2 separate regions of the Homo sapiens genome follow, and region 2 is linked to region 1. The links come from fine-mapping of genetic effects on gene expression. Tissue or cell type: whole blood. Region 1 holds a variant in brackets; the other region holds the start of a gene. All regions are shown on one strand. Distances are between the middles of the regions.

Region 1 (2,752 bases):
ACCAGCCTGGCCAACATGGCACTACCCCATCTCTACTAAAAAAAAATACAAAAATCAGCTGGGCATGGTGGCAGATGCTTGTAATCCCAGCTACTCAGGAGGCTGAGGCAGGAGAATTGCTTGAATCCGGGAGGCAGAGGTTGCAGTGAGCTGAGATTGTGCCACTGCACTCCAACCTGGGTGATAGAGTAAGACTCTGTCTCCCACTGGGTGCAGTGGCTCATGGCTGTAATCCCAGCACTGTGGGAGGCCAAGGTGGGAGGATCACCTGAGGTCAGGAGGTCGAGACCAGCCTGGACAACATGGCAAAACACTGTCTCTACTAAAAATACAAAAATTAGCTGGGCGTGGTGGCGGACACCTGTAGTCCCAGCTACTTGAGAGGCTGAGTTGAGGCAGGAGAATCACTTGAACCCAGGAGGTGGAGGTTGCAGTGAGCCGAGATCACACCAATGCACTACAGCCTGGGTGACACAGCGAGACTCCATCTTGAAAAAAATAAAGACACCCATCATATGAATTAGGGCCCACCGGTATGACCTCATTAACTTAATTACCTCTTTGAAGACCCCATCTCCAAATAGAGTTACTTTCTAAGGTACTGGGGGTTATTACTTCAACATATGCATTTTGAGGGGACACACTTCAGTCCATAACAGGAGAGATGGGCTCAGTATGACTCACCCAGGCCCTAGCCTTGGGGTTGCCCCAGCCTGAGGGAGGGACACAGATCTTGCTCTCAGGAAGCCCCTGTCTGAAGCAGAGGCAGGAAGCATGCACGCAGATTTCCGAGAGAAGGCAAAATTCACTGAGCAGCCCCAGAATAGAAATGGTTAGAGGCAGACAAGTCAGGCAGGGCAAGTTTCAGAGAAGTGACTTGGAAAGGAAAGACTGTCTATGGGAGATGGGGGCCTGGAGGGGCCACTTGAGGGTCCCGAAGAGACAGAAAGTGTGTGTGTGTGTGTGTGTGTGTGTGTGTGTGTGTGTGTGTGTGTATGTGCGTGTGCGCGCGTTGGGGGACAGGGCGGGGGCAGGGGCGCTGTCTTCAGCCGACCCAGGCAGCAAGGCTCAGGTCTCTACCGAAACCACCAACTGTTGCCTCGGCCTCGGTTGCCAAGACAGCAGGGGGCATCTGGAGCCACGTGGAGCAGGGGTTGGGATGGCTTCACACACTGTCACCATTTGTGAATGTCACCCTGCTGGGTGCAGGGCACAGGAAGGTTGTGTTTTTGGCTGGCGGCTGCTGCGTCTCCAGTAAGCGCCACATGCCTGGCTGTCACAGGATTGCCAGCGCTTGCTGTAGAGCTGAGAACAGGACTCTCGCTTCCTCAAATGTGACTCAGCTGGCCTTGCCACTGCCTCTCCCTCAGTGACCACCTTTCCTCCAAGACCCCAGTCCGCCTCTCTGAGATATGTTCTGCGGCCCTCCGAGTCCCCAGGTGTCTTGGCCTCCCCGTGTGTAGACATGTCGGACACCCTTCCAGAAAGTCCCAAGTTTTTTTGTTTTTGTTTTTGTTTTTTGTTTGTTTTTTCTTTCTGAAATGGAGTTTTGCTCTTGTTGTGGAAGCTGGAGTGCAATGACACCCGATCTTGGCTCACTGCAACCTCCGCCTCC[C/T]GGGTTCAAGTGATTCTCCTGCATCAGCCTCCTGAGTAGCTGGGATTACAGGCATGCGCCACCATGCCCAGCAAATTATGTATTTTTAGTAGAGACAGGGTTTCACCATGTTGGTCAGGCTGGTGTCAAACTCCTGACCTCAGGTGACCTGCCCGCCTCGGCCTCCCAAAGTGCTGGGATTACAGGCGTGAGCCACAGCCAAGAGTCCCAAGTTTTAATGCTGCTTTGCTTGAAATAGACCCCATTATGCGCCCTTCCACCATCCTCGGGCTGGGGCATTTCAGAGGGATATAGAGGATACAGAGCCCCGTGTCTCCCGGTCTTGAGCCCCTCCTGCTCTCTCTAAGAATTCGCAACCATTTGGCGTTCATTCATCTCCCTCTCTATCCACTCAGATATGAAGCGGCCACTGAGCCCACCCCCACCGGCTGAGAAGGAGACCCCCATATCTGGAGCTGCTGAGTGCCTCCCTCGGCCCCCAGAACCACCTAAGCCCAAGCGAGAAAGAAAGCGGCCATCGTACACGCTCTGTGATGTCTGCAACATCCAGCTGAACTCGGCGGCCCAGGCCCAGGTGCACTGTGGGGGGCGGGCCCACCAGAGGCGGCTTCGGCAGCTCAGCTTGGGGAAGAGCCCCTCAGGGCCAGGTCAGTGTAGAGGGGACGCTGCTCCCACAAATTTGGTTTGGGGAGTATCTCTGTCTGGGCCCCTCTGAGGGGCTCTGGGTCTGTGGCCTCCCTCCATGGGGGTCTTTGCGTCTGGGGTGCCCTCAATGGGGTCTTAGGGTCTGAAGCCTCCCCGATGCCAGCAAGTTTTATTCTGCATCTGGACAACCCTTCTGTAGGACCTCTCGGAATCTGTGGGTCCTTAGGCCGCCTCTTGGGTCTTTGTTTCTAGGGAACTCTCCCTGTGGGATCTTTTGGGATCAGGACTCCTAAGCAGCACTTCTCCAGCCTGGAGCCTCCTGGTAGCCACAGGCTTTCAGACAAGGGCCTCATCTGCGGGGTGGGGGTCCCAGGCTCCAGCTCAGGTCTGTGGTCTCTGAAGGCCAAGGTCAGCAAGGTACACAGCACTCCAACCCAGGGACAAGGGGGAGGCCCCTCTTCCTTTGGACTCCTGGCCAGGATTTCTGCTTCT
Region 2 (2,626 bases), 35 kb before region 1:
TAAAAATTACAAAAATTAGCCTCACATAGTGGCAGGCCCCTGTAATTCCAGCTACTCAGGAGGCTGAGGCAGGAGACTCACTTGAACCTGGGAGACGGAGTTTGCAGTGAGCCGAGATCATGCCACTGCACTGCAGCCTGGACAACACAGTAAGACTCCATCTCAAAAATAAAAAAATAAAAGAAGTTTTAAACACTCCTCTTTAATAGCCCTCCTAAGCCTTATTCATAAAGGGTATCAACAGTCTAAACTTGAGGCCCATCAAGAGTGTGAGGGCTTCCTGCTCCCCCTACCCCATAATAGCTTCCAACCCCGATATTCCCCTCTCCACCTTCCCTTAACCCTCAGATCATCTCCCCTAGGCTGGGGAAAGGCTGAGATCCAGGGTTTGAGGGGTGGGCTCAGGTAGGCACGGGGGTGGGGAAAATTACAAAGGCCTAAATTTTCTGTTCTCATTTTAACAAGAAAGAAAAAGAAAGGCAAGATCTAGGTTGCTTCATCAGGGAAAGGGCTATTTCTGTAGTACAAGGCCCAGCAGGCAGGAGACACCTTCAAGAGGAAGGGAGGGGGCTAGGGCAGAGATTTGAGAGCAGGATGGCAGTCCTTCCTGCCGTCCAACCTCCTTCCCTCCTGCTACATTCTTGGTTCTGTCCCCAGGTAGATGAGAAATGCACCCTGTCTTCTCCCAGCATTTTCTTTTTTCTGTAGGCCTCTTGTCTGATTGAGGGCTGAAATTCCCGTTCCCGTCTTTTTGGCTACCATCTCCCATAGACAGTGTACTTCTCTTTCCCAAGGCCCCCCTCTTCCTCCTCTCAAAGTGTCCTTGGCCCTGGATCCAGGAGTCTCCTTCCTCCTCCCTCCTGTCCCATCTCCAGCTGCCTTCCCGGGGGGAGAGTTGCCCATCCGCTCCCCACTTTGCCTTCAGTTAGTATACTGCCTGCCAGCAACGTGCCTTTTACAGGTCAATAAAATTAGCGACTGGGGGCAGAGGGAGGGGGCAGGGGCTCAGGGGTGCTAAGCTCAAAGGCCTTGAATGTGGCTAGACTCACGGAGTCAGGACGCCTGTCATTCCAGGGCTAAACAGTGACAGCTGGGGGACCTGGGCTGGCGCTGGGGGCGGAGGAGGGGCTGTGTGGCAGGGAGGGAGATGGGCTGAGGATAAAGATGGTCTGGTTGCCTAATGGCCCCCTCAGCGGCCTAAACCCCTACACAGCTGAGCCCTGGAGAGGGCACCCTTACTTTAGAGGAGTGTCCCGTCTCACACCCAACCCTGCCAGGCCCGAAGAGCTCAGATGGAAGGGGACTCAGGCCAGGAGAGGTTTCTGAGCTTTCTTCTTCGTGTGAGGGGTCTTTATATGAAGTCACCCTCTCCAGGGCATCTGGGCGAGGCTGTCTGAAGCGGGGAATTCCCACCCACCCCCCGCACCCCCTGGAGTCCTAACTTCCCAGCCTTCAGAACTCGAGCTCCGGGCCCTCCCTGTGGCTCAGATGCTCTCCCGGGACTTCCCACCTGAATGAGCCCGCGCACCCCACCGGCGGGGCCTCGAGGGAGGGGCCGGCCCGGCTCCCCCTCCCAGCCCCGCCCCTGCCCCGCCGGGCCCCGCCCCTCCCAGCCAGCCCCACACGCAGCGTTCCCAGCCAGGCGAGAGCAGGTGGCCGCGGCGGGCTCCGTCTCTGCCCCGCAGGTAAGACGGCGACGCGGGCTAGTCCACGCCGAGGACCTCGAGGGCAGCGCGGGAGAACGAGGCAGCCTCTTCCACCTGTCCGGTCCTCTCGCCTCAAAATTGGGGGACCCCAAGGGACAGTGAGGATATCCCTATCTCGGCTCTGAGCGCCGACGTTGGGCATCTGCTGGGCGGGACTGAACTCTGGGGCAGTTAGAGGGTCCTGGCTGGTTATCCCTGATGCCAGGCGGGCTCCAAAGGATGGAAAAGAAAGAGCCGGGCATTAGACACGCAGCTTTCTGGAGTGGGGCAGGTTGGGGATGGTGAGGACGGGGGTCCGGAGTAAGGAACCTCGTTGACTGAGAGTGCGCCATGCCTCATCCAAGGGCAGCCTCTTCCCCACCCTAGGGGGTGATGGCTTGACCCAAACTGGGCTTCTGTTCCGTGGGCTAATGAGGTAAAAGCCGCCGCATAGCTGAGCTGGGGCCTGGGATTTTCTAATGAGCCCCAGGGCACCTGCATCATTTATTTACATCTGGGTACAAGGGGGTGAGCAGGGGATTACCCCGATGGCCTAGGGAACCCGGAAAGTCTGGGAACTCAGTAGATCTTTTCTGTGTCTGTGTCACAGAGCCGGCTGGGGAAGGTGATCGCAGATGTGGCCTTATTGCAGACAGGGGAGCATTTGCACCCTCAGTGTTGGGATTTGGGCTGTAGGAAAGGGGTCCTGCCTCCCAGGACCTCGAGGAAGCCTTCCTGGAGGAGGAGGACCTGGGCTGACAGCTTGAATGTGATGCTCAGAGCTCTGAGCCACTAAGGAGAGGCAGCCTTTGGGTCTTGGTGCTGGGTTGAAGTAGAGCAGAGGACCCTGGATTATAGAACAAAGGGAAGTCAGGACATTGCTGTCTGGGTCCAGCTGGGACCCCAGGGACCTTCCTGAGATCATCGCAAGCCTTTGGACA

What was found. PIP is the estimated chance that this variant, and not a neighbour inherited with it, causes the effect.
Region 2: it holds the start of ZNF385C, and the variant in region 1 is fine-mapped to the expression of ZNF385C in whole blood (TOPMed, PIP above 0.99).

The regions. Positions count from the first base shown.
Region 1 is chr17:42,062,317-42,065,068 of GRCh38, reverse strand. ZNF385C (zinc finger protein 385C) reads left to right here. Exons shown (of 9, transcript NM_001392013.1): 2 at 2,011-2,262. The coding sequence starts at 2,013. Among named protein-coding and RNA genes, the nearest start is that of C17orf113, 13 kb to the right of the region's middle. RefSeq lists silencers at 950-1,049, 1,044-1,338 and an enhancer at 2,433-2,752. The variant C/T (reference allele first, on the strand shown) is at 1,616.
Region 2 is chr17:42,097,469-42,100,094 of GRCh38, reverse strand. It overlaps ZNF385C (zinc finger protein 385C), which reads left to right and starts at 1,622. Exons shown (of 9, transcript NM_001392013.1): 1 at 1,622-1,685.